4 linked regions of the Homo sapiens genome follow. The protein of the gene in region 1 interacts with the protein of each later gene in a biochemical or structural test. Each region holds a gene or a part of one and is shown on either strand. Other genes may lie near its edges.

The links. Proteins that work in one complex are often made in the same cells at the same time.
Region 2: of the proteins of CUL5 (region 1) and APOBEC3G, one has a biochemical effect on the other in vitro, tested with the Homo sapiens proteins (one study listed by BioGRID).
Region 3: of the proteins of CUL5 (region 1) and UBA3, one has a biochemical effect on the other in vitro, tested with the Homo sapiens proteins (one study listed by BioGRID).
Region 4: the proteins of CUL5 (region 1) and DCUN1D5 form a complex in vitro, tested with the Homo sapiens proteins (one study listed by BioGRID).

Annotation. Positions count from the first base shown.
Region 1 is NC_000011.10:108,104,338-108,109,291, reverse strand, and holds the end of CUL5 (cullin-5), read right to left. Parts: coding exon 4,908-4,954; 3' UTR 3,086-4,907; coding exon of another isoform or gene 3,005-3,085; 3' UTR 1,531-3,004; downstream 1-1,530. UniProt on the Homo sapiens protein: Core component of multiple cullin-5-RING E3 ubiquitin-protein ligase complexes (ECS complexes, also named CRL5 complexes), which mediate the ubiquitination and subsequent proteasomal degradation of target proteins.
Region 2 is NC_000022.11:39,076,109-39,081,210, reverse strand, and holds the start of APOBEC3G (DNA dC->dU-editing enzyme APOBEC-3G), read right to left. Parts: upstream 3,937-5,102; 5' UTR 3,850-3,936; coding exon 3,833-3,849; intron 2,280-3,832; coding exon 2,126-2,279; intron 279-2,125; coding exon 1-278.
Region 3 is NC_000003.12:69,065,730-69,070,365, reverse strand, and holds part of UBA3 (NEDD8-activating enzyme E1 catalytic subunit), read left to right. Parts: intron 1-2,357; coding exon 2,358-2,438; intron 2,439-4,636. UniProt on the Homo sapiens protein: Catalytic subunit of the dimeric UBA3-NAE1 E1 enzyme. E1 activates NEDD8 by first adenylating its C-terminal glycine residue with ATP, thereafter linking this residue to the side chain of the catalytic cysteine, yielding a NEDD8-UBA3 thioester and free AMP.
Region 4 is NC_000011.10:103,084,525-103,089,160, reverse strand, and holds part of DCUN1D5 (DCN1-like protein 5), read left to right. Parts: intron 1-4,636. UniProt on the Homo sapiens protein: Contributes to the neddylation of all cullins by transferring NEDD8 from N-terminally acetylated NEDD8-conjugating E2s enzyme to different cullin C-terminal domain-RBX complexes which is necessary for the activation of cullin-RING E3 ubiquitin ligases (CRLs).

The DNA of each region.
Region 1 (4,954 bases):
ACAAGAAATGATCCCTCAATGTAAAGGAGCTCTATAACATTTATTTATGAATCAATGAATGAATTAGTCTGGCCCTGTTGCCCAGGCTGGAGCGCAGTGGTGCGATCTCAGCTTGCTACAACCTCCACCTCCCAGGCTCAAGTGATTCTCATGCCTCAGCCTCCTGAGTAGCTGGGATTACAGGTATGTATTTTTAGTAGAGATGGGGTATTGCCATGTTGGCCAGGCTGTTCTTGAACTCCTGACCTCAAGTGATCTGCCCACCTCACCTTCTCAAAGTGCTGGGATTACAGGTGTGAGCCACTGCGCCCAGCCTGAAATTTCTTTTAAATTTAGTTCCTCTGGGTAATTAAGTCCCTGTATGCAATTCAAGTTTCTTATAGTCAAGAGTTTTTTCGATTATTAAATTGTTCACTTGATCAGTAACTAATTGCTATTATCTGTCCAGTTTCACAACCTTATTGCCAAACTATTTCTAGCTTAAAAATAAGTATTTCAGGCCAGACGCGATGGCTCACACCTGTAATCCCAGCACTTTGGGAGGCCGAGGCAGCTAGATCACGAGGTCAGGAGATTGAGACCATCCTGGCTAACATGGTGAAACCCTGTCTCCACTAAAACTGCAAAAAATTAGCCAGGTGTGGTGGCAGGCGCCTGTAGTCCCAGCTACTCGGGAGGCTGACGCAGGAGAATGGCATGAACCCAGGAGATGGAGCTTACAGCGAGCCGAGATCGCGCCACTGCACTCCAGCCTGGGTGACAAAGTGAGACTCTGTCTCAAAAAATAAAAATAAAAACAAAAATAAGTATTTCACAAATTTTCAAATATATCCAAAATGTGAAATGATTATGTTTTACATTTTTTACTTTTTTTTTTTTTTTTTTTTTTTTTTTGAGACAGTCTCATTCTGTCGCCCAGGCTGGAGTGCAGTGGCACAATCTTGGTTCACTGCAACCTCCGCCTCCCGGGTTCAAGCGATTCTCCTGCCTTAGCCTTCCGAGTAGCTGGGACTACAGGCGCGCGCTACTACACCCGGCTAATTTTTATATTTTTAGTAGAGACAGGGTTTCACCATGTTTGCCAGGCTGGTCTTGAACTCCTGTCCTCAGGTGATCCACCCACCTTGGCCTCCCAAAGTGCTGGGATTACAGGCGTGAGCCACTGAGCCCGGCCCATTTTTTACTTTTATCTGCTATAAAATTTGAATTTTGTTATGACATAGCCTATCTTAGTTGATGAATATATTAACCACTTTCAGGTTGGAATTTTTTTTTTTTTATTACCTCTTCCAGGCATATAGCCACATGCTATCATCAGTGGAAAAGCTACATTCCTGACTGCTCTCATTTTGAATTAGAATTTGAAGTCTAATATAAATAAGTGGGTTACTTTTCATATTTCTGATTCCTAAGGCTGGCTGAGATTAATTTACCTTCAAATTTAAAAATATACCTACTATAAAAATTTTAATTAAACTCTTTGTAACTATTTTATAGTAGAACATCAACATTTTCTGGATAGGTAAAAGCTTTTATATTACATTTTTATTTTGCAAGAAAATAAATTATACAACTTAAAAAATAAAATCCAAAAATTAAGCAGTTCATCAAAATATTTCAGCCTACTGCATACAGAAACTGCTACCACTTAAAATTGTACAGCATTATCATCTCAGTATGTAGTGGCACACATTCAAAATCGTATAGACCATATGAGGATAGATTACAACTTAGAAACTAAAATAAATTTGTTCAACACTCCAGACAACATATAGTGTAGATGACAGGAAAGCTCTCATGTAATGTTTATTTCACAAACATGACCTTGGAAGAATTCATAAGACAGCATCCCAGTCACTTACATGAGAACAGAAAAACCAGCTTGAGTTTAAGATAGCAAATCTTTCTGTAAAACTAGCAAATCTTTCACCCAGACTGAAGTTTTAAAATTTGCCCTTTGAGCAGTGCTAGAGACATCTTACTGCAAATAATGCAAAATACTTTTTAACTACTCAGGTCATATTTTCTATTAAATTTAATAAAAAGTAAAAGAAAGAAAGCTAACATTTCATTTTTGGAAGGTTTAACATTTATGCACAAAATAAGAGCAAGAGACTTAAATAAAAAAGTTGACAGAACTCAGGGACCCCTCCAATAAATGTAAAAATTGGAAGACTTCAGAATTTATTTCAAGATCCTCATTTAATCATTGGAATAGTAATATTCTAATATTTATCTCATTGTGACCATCAAAATTTTTCTATATTTTTACTTCTTAAACTCTGTCTTATGTCTACTTACTCCGGCAACGAGATGGCAACACAAGTTAACATTTTCCAGATGGGATGTCTCTGTCTTTAAACTAGAAGATGGGTATTCAGAGGTTAAGATAGCCTCTGAAGTGTCTTATTGCCATACCACTAATTTTTAAAAATTAAATTTTTTTTTTTTTTTTGGAGGGGGAGGCTGGATTTTCTTTTCACTTAACTGCAGGTTATATCCCTGCTCGGCACCAATTTTAAGTGTACGCTGGAGAGAAGAGACCTGAATAAAGGATGCCAACTGTGATTCCAGACCTTTACAAACTGCTGGTAAGATTTTTTTTTTCATTTTTTTTTAAATTAGCAAATCTGTTGTTAAATTACTTAAAGAAAATTTAACAATGGCATAGGCACCTTGTCAACTAAATGATTTTCATAAACACCAAAAAGTAGTTAAAACTTTTGTATACATAACCAAAAAAAAAAAAAAAAGAAAACTGTACATTTACAGTATTTGCTGCTGTTCATTCCCCAAAATACAATTAGGACATAATTGGCTATTAAAAATTTATAAAATTTAATAAAAAACTTTGCTATGAATGTAGTGTTACCCACTTTTGCATTAAATTCACCTTCATAAATCAAAACATCATGACTCTCATTCTTAAATTAAATGACCCAAAATTAGAAGTTCCAAAAAAGTTCTGAGAACAATTATGGTTTAAAACAACAAACCTAAATTTTTAAAATGGACGGCAATTTTTCCTGTTTCCTCCTTTGGCATTCTTGTATTGGGACAAGCAAATACGCCAATGCTGAATTATCTGTTAAACATAAGGGCCACAATTACTACAAAATTATTTCTTCTAAATTCCAAATATACCCATTATGAACAGTCACCTAATTAGAGAAAACTGTACGTATTAATTTTAGTTTAATTCTTCACAATATGCTCGGTCTAATAATTGACATTTGCTACCTTAAAGTGTAAAATTTTAAACAAAATTCCAATTTCCTATAAGTTTCAGAACAGGCATTTGGCTATACTCAGCAAAACTCTAAATGTTTTAAAGTTGCTTTCCTTCCATTCAGCAGGCAGTTCACAAAGCCTCTTCGGATGGGGACAGATCCTACGAAATGCTCTTGAAAGCACTCCACTGTAACATAATACTGTATGCCTTTCTGTACTCCATTTCCTACTATCTTCAAAAACCATACTTTAAAAATATTACTTAACATCAAATAAGATATAAAATAATTTGCAAGAAAATTTGAAACGTGCACCACAATGAATAAAAATCCACGTTGAGCCATTCTTTCCTCAAGGGGAATCAATTTTCTCTTTCAAGTTGTTCACGTCCTCAAGTCCTAAAATTTCCACTACTCTGGGTATTCAGTTGCCAGCAACTAGTTAAGTTGCTACTTTGGATAGACTGAAAGGAACATGGTAAATGTTGCCTTCTGACGATTTAAAAAATGTTTATTTTTAAAATATATAAATATATATGTACATATATTTGGCAAGTTTACTGCTCGTATTAAGAGTGCAACAATTTTGCTTCTGTTTTTCAGGTCTTATGTTGTGGTTTTTCTCTTACCCCTAGGTGACTGATTCAAACCTGAGGCTACAAATCCCTAATCATGAGACCTTAAAATACCAAAATACTTCTATGCTACAGATTAAGAGATCAGTTACATAACTATATCAGAGCAGGAGATTTCTGTGTTGTTTTTAATAAATTCAGATATGGCATAATAAATATTAGGTATATAAACATTAAGTGTGTTAGTAAACACACAATATGTTTAGTAAACACACTTAATATGTTTGTTTTGCTATTTTGGCTCTGCAATCATAATGACCTACCTATCTCCATAAATTTTTTAAACTATTGAAGCAACAATTAATATAAGCTTCATTTTTCAAAACAAGCTTTCCAGCCATATTTAAAAAAAAAAAAACTCCTCATCATTTAACAACAACTAAAATAGCAGTCTCCTGCTTAAAGAAAACCAACATTTGAAAGTTGAAAATATTTAATACCATTTTTAGGTCACCATTAAAATCCAGTTATTATACTGAGCAATGTTTGAACAATTTGATACTATTAAATACTTAACTTCTCACCTACATCTGCCGTTTCCCAATGTTGCATTGACCAGCTCACTCTTTTCATCAAAAGAAACCAAGAGTGCTATTTCTAGTTTTAATTGCATTTTTTAAAAACAAAAGATAACAGCATTTTTCAGTGCATGAATATCTGAAGATCCTTCCTTGTGCAAGTACATTTTTTAAGAGAGGAAAAAAGAGAAAAAAGCAACAAGAACCCCACCCTCACCCTTCCCAACTGTATTTCTCCTGGTGGGTACAAATCAAATTCACTTTTAAAAGTTGATAATGGGCTCTTCATGAATGCAAGTTTCTCCACAAAACAGCATGCTGTCAAAGAGTGTGCAACATGAAGGGAATGCCATCATGCTAACTAATGTGATTGGCAAAATATAGTTGTTTTTGTAAGGTAAGGCAGAGATTTTAATATTTATGTAATCAAAGTCCAAATAAACCTTTCTCCAGCACAAACTTTACAACTTTCTGCCCAAGCACTCCAAAATTTGGGTTCTAAATATTGTCCATGATATTCAAAATTATGCCATATATATGAAAGTGTTGATATCAGATTCATCTCTTCTGA
Region 2 (5,102 bases), on another chromosome or scaffold:
TTCATGGTGGCACGCGGACCGTCTCTTTTCTGACACAGGCTGCGAAGCGCCTCCTGGTAATCTGGGTCCCAGAAGTAGTAGAGGCGGGCAACAAAGATGGTCAGGGTAACCTTCGGGTCCTCGGCCAGGAACGTGGCCATATCCCTTGTACACTTTGTGCAGGGGCTCCAGGATATGTACCAGGTGACCTCATACTCCTGGTCACGATGCAGCTTCCTCCACTTGCTGAACCAGTGGAAGAATCTCATCTCTGGGTGGTACTTAAGTTCGGAATACACCTGGGAGAGGAGCAGGGTCAGGGCAAGCTCTGAGAGGGGGAGCAGGAGGAGAGCAGGGGTGGGGCAGGGGGAGGAGGGGCCAGGACAGGAGTCCAGGAGATCTTGCCATTGAAGCTCCTTTCCTCCATCCCCCTGTTCGGTTTGAGTGTTTGTCTGCTCCAAAGCTCATGTTCAGTATTAATTGCTATGGTAATGGCCTTAAGAGGTGGCACCTACAAGCAGCTATGAGGCTGTGGGAACTGCACCTTTGTGGGTGCCACTGCTGTGGTTATTCAAGGGCGACTTCAGCCCCTCTTTCTGTCTCTTGCCCTCTAGCTGGGGGGGCAGTATGTCAGACTAAACTGCTTCCTCTTGCCCCCATGTCACGGAGCAGCAGTGACTCGACATCCCAGGCCACTCTGTCTGGAGCATCCCCTGAGCTTCTGGCAACAACCTTCACCCCCACGTGACTGTGCAGCTCGCAGGCCCTGGAAAGTTGCTGGTGCATTGACAGGGGACTTCCCAGAGTCCAGAACTCGAGCCCATACATTTCTGTTCATTGTAAATGTCCCCATCTCAGTCCTGCTGTTGAAGCATCACAAGGTGCACCAAGACACGTGCTTCCCTGAGTTTGGAAGTTTTCCCAGCCCTGTTCATGGCCTCGTGTGTGAATTCTAGCATCCATTCTCCCAGGCATCCATTCACCAGACATCCTCAGCCCCTACTGTGGCCTGGCCCTCTAGGGTCTGCCTTGTTCCCTGCCTGCAGTCAGTGGGGAGCCCACTGGACCTGCACTGTCCATGTCGGGGGGGGTGACATGGCCAAGGGACTACTGAGTACTTGAAATGGGGCTCTGATTAGAGACCTGGGCACCTGAAAAATACACCACTCATTTCTTTTTTTTTTTTTGAGATGGAGTTTCGCTCTTGTTGCCCAGGCTGGAATGCAAGGATGCAATCTTGGCTCACTACAACCTCTGCCTCATGGGATCAAGCGGTTCTCCTGCCTCAGCCTCCCGAGTAGCTGGGATTACAGGTGACTGCCACCATGCCTGGCTAATTTTTTTTTTTTTTGTATTTTTAGTAGAGATGGGATTTCACCATGTTGCCCAGGCCGGTTTTGAATATCTAACTTCAGGTGATCTGCCCGCCTTGGCCTCCCAAAGTGCTGGGATTAGAGGTGCGAGCCACCCACTGTACGTGACCCACGCAGCTCATTTCAAAGACTCGGTGTGACAAGAAAAAGAAACTTCATTATCTTGTCAAGAATTTTATGTTAATTAATGTTGAAGTAATATGTTAGCCACATTGGATTAATTAAATATTAAAATTAGGCCGGCGCTGTGGCTCACACCTGTAATCCCAACACTTTGGGAGGCCGAGGCAGGTGGATCACCTGAGGTCAGAAGTTCGAGACCAGCCTGGTGAATATGGTGAAACCCCATCTGTACTAAAAATACAAAAAAAAAATCAGCTGGGCGTGGTGGTGGGCACCTGTAATCGCAGCTACTTGCGAGTCTGAGGCGACAGCATCGCTTGAACCCAGGAGGCAGAGGTTGCTGTGAGCCGAGATCGCGTCATTGCACTCCAGCCTGAGCAACAAGAGTGAAACTCTGTCTCAAAAAAAAAAAAGAAAAAAGAAAAGAAAAGAAAAACGGAAACACAAGGCCTTTTGTGCAGAGGCAAACCCCCTCCACGATCCGATCCCAGGACGGTCCAGCAGGAAGGTCAGGGCCACGGACTTGGAAAGTGTGGGAGAGAAGGACACACTGGATAGCCCGCCGCCGGGCACTTCACTTATCAGTGCGTGGTTTGCTTTCCCAGCTGGCTTAGCTCCTGCCTGCAAAGTGATTGGAGTCCGGGTGGTACCTGGCCTCGAAAGATCTTTGCGTCCAAAGGGGGCCTTGAGGGACCCTTTGTTTTCACTTCGTAGCACAGCCAGACGGTATTCCGACGAGAAAGGATGGGTCTATTATAAAAGTTGTAGGAGAATGTGTCTCGATACATTCGCTCCACTGTGTTTCTGAAGACACAAGAGAGAAACCAGCCAATGTAGAGAGCACTCCTGGGGGCCCTCCGGGCTGATGTCCACTAAACACAGCCCCCTGGACGGCTCTAGGCCTCCCCCATCCCTCCCCTCCCCTGAGAATTTCGGCGGAGACTGTAGTGAGCCAAGATCGCGCCACTACACTCCAGCCTGGGCGACAAGAGCGAAATTCCGTCTCAAAAAAAAAGAGAGAGAGAGACAGAATAAAACTCTTCACCCCAAAATAACAGCTTTTAACCTTTCAGCTCAGTTCCTTCCTGACATTTCACCTCTGTATATTATTATTGTTAAATCATGGTAGAACCGAATTCTGAGGCCCAGGCCAGTCTTCTAAGTGCTGCGCGGGGGTGAGCTCATGTGAGGCTGCCCTAGGCTGGCAGGGGCCATTCCCGTCTTACAGAGGAGGGGCCAGACGCGCAGAGAGGCGGGGTAACCTGCCCAGGCCACAGAGCTGGGGACAAATGGAGTGGGGGCCCCTTTCCAGGCCAGCCCTGTCCAGTCTCTGTATCACTGGCCCTGCAGGAGGCAGCCATTGGGGACCGGGCTCTCTTCTTACTAAATTTTAAAATAACAACATTCCTCCTGATCATTGAGTTTTTTTCCCATATATTCCATGTTTTTTCTTTTGTTTTTGTTTTTTTTTCTTTCAAGACGAAGTTTTGCTCTTGTTGCCCAGGCTGGAGTGCAATGGGGCGACCTCAGCTCACTGCAAACTCCGCCTCCTGGGTTCAATGGATTCTCCTGTCTCAGACTCCCAAGTAGCTGCGATTACAGGCGCCCGCCACCACACCCAGCTAATTTTGCATTTTTAGTAGAGACAGGGTTTATCCATGCTGGTCAGGCTGGTCTTGAACTCCTGACCGCAGGCGATCCGCCCACCTCAGCCTCCCAAAGTGCTGGGATGACAGGTGTGAGCCACCGCACCCGGCCACTATATTCCATGTTACTGGTGTCATTTATAAACAGTGAATGCTGATAGTGGAGGAGGAGCGTGTGTTTGGGGTCATCTGCATCCTCCTCTGCCCACAGTGGAGACATCCTTGGAAGACATGATTTATCCTGTGCTTCAGAGACCATTCCCTCCCCACACCCTCTCCTAAGACTTGGTATTTAAGCAAAGTAAATCTTACAGAAAATCCATCAAAGCCCTGTGAACAAAATTCCACCTTGCTCTACTCATCCTTTGGTTCAATTCTCCCAGTTCCAGAGTTCAGGAATGGCGGGAAGCACACAGAGGGAGCACCCTCCCAGGGCCGGGAGCACCACCCCAGCCATGACTTTCAGGGGAGAGTCTCAGCAGGGGACCTGGGCTGGGACAGATGGGGGAGGCGGCCCATTCAGAAGCAGCAGTGGGGCGACAACACAGCAGGGCAAGGAGCCTGGCTGGGAGTAGGGGGTGCAGGGGAGTCAGAGGGGAGGGAGCCCAGGGCTGGGGCTGGGGCAGGGGAAGGCCAGGGCTGACGCCCAGCAGAGCCACCAGGCAAGAAGGGGCAGCAGAGGGGCCCAGTGGGTAGAGCGGGCAGCGGTACCTGAAGTGAGGCTTCATCCTTGGCCGGCTAGTCCCGACTAAGATCTTTGTCTGGAGCACCAGGGTTTCACTTTCTGCTCCAAGCTTCTGGTTTTAGGACAGCCCTCCCTAAAGTGACCTCCCAGGGCCTCGTAGTCATGGCCCCTCCCGCTTCCTGCTCAGGCGCTGGTGTAGGAGGCCCTGGGACGCTTTATCTTCCTCAGTCTCTCACCCTCTTTCTGGTTTTCTCTGGGGCCCTCCCCCTGGCAGAGGGACCTCTGATAAAGACAGGCCGCTCTGTGCGGCAGGACCCAAGGCAATTGCAAAGGGAAAGAGAAAGTCATTGCAGCCAGCGCCCGGGAGGTGGGTCCACACCAGGCTGAGCCAGCAGAGCACAAGCCCCTCCCCTGGTGGTCCCGCCCAGCTGGAGCCTCCTCTCCACCATCAAGACAGACAGGCTGATGCCTCCGCAGGGACTCCCGGATCCTGCCCTCGGGGATCATCCCAGAGACGGCCCCCACCCAGCGGCCATGGGGACAGGGAGGGAGAGTAAATGGCCAGGCGTCTGCCTCCCCCCAGGCCGTCACCCTCGGAGGCCACCGTGGGAGGGAGGGACAGCAGGTGGGTGTGGGCCTCAGATGTCCCACCGGGATGCCATGCGCGCCCCCACACTGAGCTCTTTCCTTCCTGCTTCTCCTTCTTCCCCATCTCCTGCCCGGAGATCCTCCGTGGTGGGCTGAACTTTTGCCCTCTCTTGTCCCCATGTTATGGAAGGGCAGCGGCTGGTGTCCCAGGCCAGCCTGTCTGGAGCCTCCCTGCGCGTCTCACAGCTCCCTTCCCCTGGTAGCGTGTTCCCATGGCGTGGTGACCTACAAATTACACAAGGGATGCATTTGCAAATGACACTTTATTTCTTGTTAAGGGTGACAGCCTGCAAGGTAGCCATCCAGCAGCCTGGGAAGAGCAGCCTCTGGTTAACACCAGAGACAGACATTTAGAAGCAGGAGGGGTTGGGGCAGGAGCTTTATGCTGAAGGGGTTAGCTAAACATACATATTGAACAGGCTACAGGAGGAGCTATGAATATTCATGTGGGTGGCTGCACTCCATGCTTATTGAACAAACATGCGTGTAACATATGATCCCAGGCGGGCACAGTGGCTCACACCTGTAATCCCAGCATTTTGGGAGGCCGAGGCAGGTGGATCATCTGAGGTCAGTGTCAGGCCGCTGAGCCAGAGCTAAGCCATTGTGACCCCTGTGAACTGCACATATACATCCAGATGGCCTGCA
Region 3 (4,636 bases), on another chromosome or scaffold:
TGGAAGATCTTAATGGGACTGAAGTATGGATTAAAATAAGTTAATGAAGTGTTGTAATTGCAGTGTGACCCTTAATGTTTAACTTTTAAGCTTTATTTTTTGTTTATTTTTTAACCTTTGAAATTTCCCTTCTCTATAGCAAAGTTTGTGGGCTCTGTCCAGCTTGTCAAATTTTGAGTTGTGAATTCTCTGAAAAAGATACCACTGAATTGATTTGTTATTGATACAGGCCATACCCTTTAATTTGTGGCTAAAATGGTTGAAGATGGTAATAACGATATGTAGCAAGTACTTCTAAACTATCCATATTATTCCATTTAATCTCAGCAACCTCAGGGTAGGTTCTTGTGTTCAAGGTTAAATAATTTGGGCAGAGTGTCCTGCAAGGATGATGTGTGTGAAAGGCCATTTTATTGAGGTGGAGCAATCTGATTGTTTCATCCTGGAATGGTAAATTAACAAACAGTTCCCAGAAACCATCTAGGAGTTCTTTTGTTTGGGCCGTGCCATAAAAGCACATAGAATATATTACTTAAAATAATCTTAGAAGTCTACTTTATCCCTTTTACAAACCAAAAGAGCTTTCTGTGTGTGGAGCCATTGAATGCAATACTGAAATTAAGTTCTTTGATTTATAACAGGGCCTTTTTTATGTAAGTTAGTACAAAGTGAAGATAAAACATTTACCAAAAGTTTTGAATCAAAAAAGAACAGTGCTTTATTGGAGAGAAAAAAAATTGGCCTGGCATGGTGGCTCATGCCTGTAATCACAGCACATTGGGAGGCTAAGGTGGGCGGATCACTTGAGGTCAGAAGTTCGAGACCAGCCCGGCCAACACGGTGAAACCCTGTGTCTACTAAAAATACAAAAATTAGCCAGGCGTAGTGACTCATGCCCGTAGTCCCAGCACTCTGGAGGCTGAGACAGGAGAATTGTTTGAATCTGGGAGGCAGAGGTTATAGTGAGCCGAGATTGTGCCACTGCACTCCAGCGTGGGTGACAGAGCGAGACTCTGTCTCAAACAAACAAAAAAAAAGAAAAGAAAAATTGACATGCTAAAGTGTTTTTCTTTGAAATTTCAGATTTTTTTCTAATAAGCACACGATTTATTATTTTCATTTATTTTAAAAGTATTTACTGTGTGCTAGGTAGGAAGGAATATGAAGAGAGTAAGAACATGGTCACTTTCATCCAAATAATAGTCTAGTGGGTATGATAGACGTGTATGTAGCAAATATGTTACGAAAAAAGTAATAATGTTCTTATTATATACATGGAGTGATTTCTCTGAGGAGAATATGGAAATATTAGGAAAGAAAATACCATTTGTATAGAACTTAGAGGAGGAAATTCATATCCTTTCCTATCTATATGTGTGGTTATTGTTTTAAGAGTGACCTTTTGAGGCCTTATATATTCAGCTTCTGTGATGTAATAGTAACATTTGCAATTTTAGCTGACACTTTTGGTATTATTCTTTCTTTAAAAACTTGGTGCCGGGCATGGTGGCTCATGCCTGTAATCCCAGCATTTTGGGAGGCTGAGGCGGGCAGATCACCTGAGGTCAGGAGTTCGAGACCAGCCTGACCAACATGGCAAAACTAAAAATACAAAAACTAGCTGGTTGTGGTGGCAGGCACCTGTAATCTCACCTCCCTAGAGACTGAGGCATGAGAATTGCTTGAACCTGGGAGGCGGAGGTTGCAGTGAGCCGAGATCGCACCACTGCACTCCAGCCTGGGTGACAGAGTGAGTGAGACTCCGTCTCAAAAAGAAAAAAGAAAAAAACGTGGTTACAGCCTCTTTTTTTTTTTTTTTTCCATTTTATATACGGTCCAGTGAAATTTTTTTTTTCTTTTTTTTTCTTTTTCATGCAGCTTCTTAGGGGACACAAAATTTGCTGCTTAATCAGCACACACAGGAAGAAGGGGTTAAATGAAGGTTCTTGCATCCCAAGGATGAATCTTATTGTGTATATTTCAGCCAAGACCTGTGGAGTAACACCATAAGGTTCTGAGCTCTAAGAGTGGGATAATTTTTTACAGTGGAAAGTGGCCAGGAATCATAGCATTATTATGCTTTATCTGGGAGGAAGAACACTGTTCAGATTTTCTCTTAATTAAAGCAATACTTAATTAGACTTATGTTAATTTGGACCATTAGCAAGGGTTGACATTTAAGGTTAAATGACCGTTTACCAAAAGTTATTACTGAAATCAAAATACTTAGGCAAAAATATTCCTTCTAAATTTCCTATAAGTAAACTTACTGTGAATTTACTTTTATGTTTGAAAATAAGTTATGTAGATCATATAGATTTATAATATGAATTATAATTTAAATATTTTTCCTGTAGGCCTAAAGATATTGGAAGACCTAAGGCTGAAGTTGCTGCAGAATTTCTAAATGACAGAGTTCCTAATTGCAATGTAGTTCCGTATCCTTTTGACAAAAAGAAAATTACTTAATTTTTAAAAGCTTTTTTCCTTTATTATAAGAGATATTTAACAGAGAATACAGATAAGCAAGAGGGAAAAAAAGTCAGCAGTAGTAACTTTATTACTGAGATAACTGCTGGTAACATTTTGCTATCTATTCTTCCAGTCTTTTCTGTATGGTTATATAAATATTTTTTGGGCCCTGATTTTTAACTTAAGTTTATAAAGCCTGTTTCATCATCTACTTTATTTTGCATTATTGCCCTTAATTTCAGTATCAATTACATATCTCCTTTACTAGAGTGTAAATTCCTAGGCTGGATCCAATTAATCTTTGTTTCTTTATAGTAGCAGACAGAGTAGACAGTCAATATAGTATTAGCCAAATGGAAGGTACATCACAGTAAATTTATTTTTACAAGAAATATGTTTTTAAAAAGGAGTATTTACACTGTAGTTTGAATTTAGATCTGGAGAACTTTTGGCATTTTATAGAAAGTCAGAAGATGTGATTTCTATGTAGAAAGTCCCACAGAATACAAAATCAACATACCGGTGAACTTGTGAAAGTTAATGTAAAATACAATGCCATTTACAACTGCTTAGAAAGAAAAATAAATACTTAGATGTAAACTACAAGATAAGTAAGAGATTTATATAGTGAAAAACTACAAAATGCTGATGAAAGAAACCAAAGAAAATCTAAATAAATGGAGAGATAGTCCATCTTCAAAGATTGGAAGATTAAATATAGTAAAGATGTCATTTCTCCCTAAATTTGTATACATATATACCATAGTTTCTATTAAAATCCCAGCAAAATTGTCGATATAGACGATCTTCTAAAATTTTATATAGAAAAGCAAAGGAATACCTACTACAAATCTGAAAAAGAAAGTGGGAGGAATCACTATCCAAATTCTAGACTTATATAGCTATAGTAATCCAGACTCAGTGGCGTTACCAGAGGGATATATAGATGACTAGAACAGAATAGGGAAGCCAGAAATAGCCCCATATAAGTATGGCCAATTTGTTTTTGATAAAGGTGCAAAACAGTTCCAATGGAAGAAGCATAGTCTTCAACAAATCGTACTGGAGCAATTTCATATCCATAGTTAAAAGATGAATTTTGACCTAAACATACAAAATTAACTCAAAATGGATTATAGGTGTAAATATAAAATATAAAATGAGCCAGGCGTGGTGGCTCATGCCTGTAATCCCAGCACTTTGGGAGGCCGAGGTGGGTGGATCACTTGAGGTCAGGAGTTCGAGACCAGCCTGGCCAACATGGTGAAACCCCGTCTCTACTAAGAATACAAAAATTAGCCGGGCACAGTGGCTCCCAGCTACTCAGGAGGCTGAGGTGGGAGAATCGCTTGACCCTAGGAGGCTGAGGTTGCAGTGAGCTGAAATTGCGCTACTGCACCCCAGCCTGGGCGACAGAGCAAGGCTCCATCTCAAAAAAACAAAAAAAAACACAAAAAACCATAAAACGATAGAACTTTAGGGTTTGGTGGAGAGTGCTTAGGCCACGTCAAAAGCAAGACCTGTAAAAGGTGGGGTATGGTGGTGCAGATCACTGAGGAAGCAGTGAGCTTTTATCATACCACTACAGAGTCCTGGCTGCTTGGGAGGCTAAGGTGGGAGGATTGCTTGAGACTAGGAGTTTGAAGCTATAGTAGGCTGTGGTCATACTGTGAATAGCCACTGCATTCCAGCCTGGGCAATGTAGTGAGACATCATCTCTAAAAAATTAAAATAATTTTTTGTAAAAGCATGAGCCATAAAAGGAAAAAATTGATACACTGAACTTCATCAAAATTAAAAACTTGCTGTGTGAAAGACCCTCTTAAACGGATGAAGAAAAGCCACAGACTGGAGAAAATACTTGTAAAGCATCTGATGGAGGACTCATATCTAGAGTATATAATGAACTCTAAAAACTCAACAGTAAAACAAAAAAAAATTCAATTAGAAAATAGACAAAAGATAGGAAGAGATATTTTACTAAAAAGGATGACGAAAAGCACATGAAAAGATGTTTCACATCAAACTAAGACCACCATGAGCGATACTGTTACACAACTATTAGACTAAAAAAAAAAAGCCAGTCTCAAAAGGTCATATACTGCATGATTCTGTTTATATAATACTCTTGAAATTACAGAATTATAGAGATGGCTGGGTGTGG
Region 4 (4,636 bases), 5.0 Mb from region 1:
AACAAATTATCTGTTACAGGCCTGCTATGTGTTAGTGCTGTGTACTGGGATGAGGGTCAGGACTGAAGATTGTGGGTAGACTAAAAATTTGTTGCCAATTTAGGCTGATATTTCTTTAAATATATATTCGGTATATATTTACTGGGAGGGAAGAACTCATTTACTATTAATAAAACGTGTAAACAAAGATTCATTTATTTACATCTATTGGCTAAAGTAGTATTCTGGAAAATAAAAGGTACACAATAAAACATTTTTGTATTTGATATTGTGGAAAACACAAAGTACATAATAAAACATTTCTATTCAATATTCTCTTTTTGAAATTTTTCTGAACTAACATTTTCTGAAACTTTTGGGGAGACATAGTAAAAGATTTAAACCCCTCAGTTATAATTGTACAACACATTTACTTTTTAACAATTATCATTTAGCCATCCACTTCTACTAGAGATGCAATAGTAAGAAAATAAATAGACTGATATTAATACAGTGTGATAAATACTATATTCAGAAGATACACTGTGAGAGTTCATAGGAGGGATATATAACCCAGCTTTTAAAGTGTCATGGGAGTTTTCTAGAGGAGCTAACTTAACCTCAGCTAAATCTTGTAACTGGTGGATGAAGAGCCCTAGGCCCAGGATGGGGTTGTGTTTTAGAGGCGAAAGTCAAAGCCAGCCAGAGATGGGGCTGAAGAGTTAAGCAAATATATGCAAAAGAACACTTATACTATCTCATAAATATATATGGAATTTTTTTCCCCTTAGAATAGTTTTGTTTTTTTGGAGTTATTGATTTTAAAGCTTTTTTCTTTTCCTTTTCCTTTTTTTTAACCTGCTTCACTTTTTTTTCTCCTTCTTTTAATCACTATCATTCTCAAAATGTTTGTTTAAAATGGAAGTGTATATGTAGCTATTGCCTTATATTTAGTGCTCATCCACATTAAGGTCTAAAGTAGTATACTTTGAACTTGAGGTATAAGTTTAGGCTAATTGTATGGAATGTGAGACTATTTTGAAAGGGGGGCAGTAACTTTACTGTTGGAATCAGCTGAGTGATCCCAAAGTACAATTTTAAAATTGTTTAGTAACAGAACAGATTCTTTCTAGACCAGAAATAAATGCTATTACTGGCATCCCAAGACAACCACTAACCCAATTTAAATGAAGGGAATTCATTTCTTACTGACCTCCATTTAAAATGTTGACCCATTATCCCAAATGCCAGTTTTACTGGTATGAATGATATATAATCAAAAGGTCACCCATCTTATTTCACTTATAAAGGTTACTAGATACAATAGAAATAGAAAATATTTGCCTCAACTAGGAACTTTCCTAGGTAGTGTAAGATTCTAATTAAACATTTGTTTACTATATTAGCATTTTTAATAGCCAACATAATAATTGCATTATTCCAGGAATTGTCCCAGGTATATTATTTTTTCTTGTGACTGTTCTATTAAGTAGGTAGTATTATCACCACCTCCCACTACGACTTTATTTTTTGAGACAGGGTCTCACTGTGTCGCCCACGCTGGAGCGCAGTGCTGTGATCATGGCTCACTGCAGCCTTGAGCTCCTGGGCTCAGGCCATCCTCCCACCTCAGCCTTTCTAGTAGGTGGGAATATAGGCATGTGCCACCACGCCTGGCTAATTTTTTAAATTTTTTGTAGAAATGGGGTTTCAGCCGGGTGTGGTGGCTCACGTCTGTAATCTCAGCACTTTGGGAGGCCAAGGTAGGCAGATCACGAGGTCAGGAGATCGAGACCATCCTGGTTAACATGGTGAAACACTCTCTCTACCAAAAACACAAACAATTAGCCGGGCGTGGTGGTGTGCGCCTGTAGTCCCAGCTACTTGGGAGGCTGGGGCAGGAGAATGGCGTGAACCCAGGAGGCGGAGCTCACAGTGAGCCGAGATAACACCACTGCACTCCAGCCTGGGTGACAGAGTGAGACTCTGCCTCAAAAAAAAAAAAAAAGAAAAAGAAAAAAAGAAATGGGGTTTCACGATGTTGCCCAAACTGGTCTCCAACTCCTGGGCTCAAGTGATCTAATTGCCTCAGCTTCCCAGAGTGGTGGGATTACAGGCATGAGCTGCTGTGCTTGGCCATACCCTCATTTTATAGATGAGAAAACTGAGACTTAGATTAATTAATTTGCCCAAGATCATATAGTGACAAGAGCCAGGATTCAAACCCAGGTCCTTCTGATTCTAAAGTCCATGCTTTTAACTACTATGCTTTTATGTATTTTTTATTTAAATTTTATAATGTTTATATATAGTTATAAACATTTTATTATAATAGATATTATTTTATGTTTATTTTTTATTTAAGCTAATTTTCACTTTTGCAAAGAAAATATTGGTACTCTTGGTTAATTTCTGTCATCCATTCAATAAATATTGAGCACTTGTTTTGAGTCAGGCACTGTGCTGAGTGCTGGATATATAGTGCTGAGCAAGTCAGACAAGATCCCTGCCTTTGGGGGACTTGCCTTCTGGTGAGGAAGACAGTCAGTAAACAGGTATGTAGGCAAGATAAGTACAGATTGTGGGGAGTTATAAGGATAATAAATATGGTGAGGTTCAGGAATAGAGAAGAAAGAAGGGTTAGATGGACTTTCAGATAGAGTGATTAGGGAAGGCCTCTCTGTGGAGACCACTTTGTGCAGAGACCTGATTAGGGAGGAACCATTTGTTTGCCAAATAAACAGTAACTGTTCTGTCTTGAAATGGGTATGTCCGTATTAAAATGAAGCCAATAATTTTGCCTACTGAGAATAATACATGTAAAGCCCTTAGCACAATACCTGGTATATAGTCAGAACTCAAATGTTATTATTATTAAAACAGTAATAGCATTACAGCATCAGATTTACTGGTTGTGTGTTTTTTACAGTGTTCCAAAATTAATGACTCTTACGTAGCTCATGTTGAAGGTGCTGTGTCACTGAGAATTTTTTTTTTTTCCCCCTAAGCATCTGTTATGGCTGGCATGGTATTAGGCCTTGCAGATATAGCTAGGAACATTCCTTTATGGTTATAAAGAAATCAGGAAATTGATGGTGTTTTTCTTTTAGTTTTGAAAATATCACTAAACTTGTTACTATGGTATTATGTGTGATAAGGCTGTTGGTTTTGTTCTTTCACAAGACCTCATTCTTGAGTGATATTTAAATTAATGATTCAGTAATATACTGGCCTATGGTAATTGAAAACATGGAAAGTGAAAGGGCAGTTTTAAAGTCTCATAGAGTCAAAAAATAAGGTTGGAATTGCATAGTCCTAATATAGTACCTAGCTGGTGGAGTAGAGTGAACTCATAGTATGAACAAAATCATTTCTATAGCTTCTTCAATTGAGTGGAAACCTAGTTGTCCAAAAGAGTTAATTAAATTTAGCTCCAGAGGTTTTACCCAGAGAGTAGTTTTATTAGAAAGATTGGAAGCAATGGTATTGGAAGGATTAACATTTTGCAGTCCGGGGAAAGCACATTAGTTACAGACCTCGCTTTAGACTTAGATCTGTTACTATTTACATCACTTTGGCAAAGTCAGTTAACATTTACAGACCTTATCTAAGTTATAAGGTATTATATCTCTATGTAATCTCATTTGACTTGCTTCTAACCAAATTTTAATTAGTAATCACCAAGTAATCCTCCAGTTTCTAGGGGGGCTATACTGATATTTCTTTTTTATTTTTTATATTTTTTGAGACAGAGTCTCGCTCTGTCACCTACGCTGGAGTGCAGTGGCGCAATCTCGGCTCACTGCAACCTCTGCCACCTAGGTTAAGTGATTCTCCTGCCTCAGCCTCCTGCGTAGCTGGGATTACAGGCACCTGCCACCACGTCTGGCTAATTTTTGTAGTTTTAGTAGAGACAGGGTTTCACCATCTTGGCCAGGCTGGTCTTGAAATCCTGACCTCGTAATCCATCTGCCTCGGCCTCCCAAAGTGCTGAGATTACAGGCGTGAGCCACTGCTCCTAGCTTATGCTGATGTTTCTAGACATCCTCTAAAGCTTTCTCTTTGAATCACTAATGGCAACTTTGAGAGCAAGTATGTTTTCTTGATGCTTTAGAAAAATTTACAATATATTTACATCGTGGCTTTTAAAAAAACCGTTTGTCTTTTCCCTTAATTTTTTATTTTTTATTTTTTTTTGAGACAGGGCCTTGCTCTCTCCCAGGCTGGAGTACAATGGCGTGATCATGGCTCATTGCAGCCTCAAACTCCTGGGCTCAAGCAATGCTCCCACCTCAGTCTCCTGAGTAGCTGGGACCACAGACTGGCACCACCACACAAGGCTATTTTTTTTTTCCCTAGAGATGGGGTCTCCCTGTGTTGTGCAGGTTTGTCTGGAACTCTTGGGCTCAAGTGATAATCCCACCTCGGCCTCCCAAAGTGCCAAGATTACAGGCATGAGCCACCGCGCCTGGGCCTCTTAAATTTTCAAATCTGATTTTTGTTTTCTTTCAATCATATATAAGAATACATACTCATTTATGCATTTTAACACCTTTATTGTATATGTATGCCTTTTAAGTTATAAAATTAACACATTCTCATTTAAACAATTCTCCAAATATGTAAAGGAAGAGAAAGTGCCCTATAATTAATCACC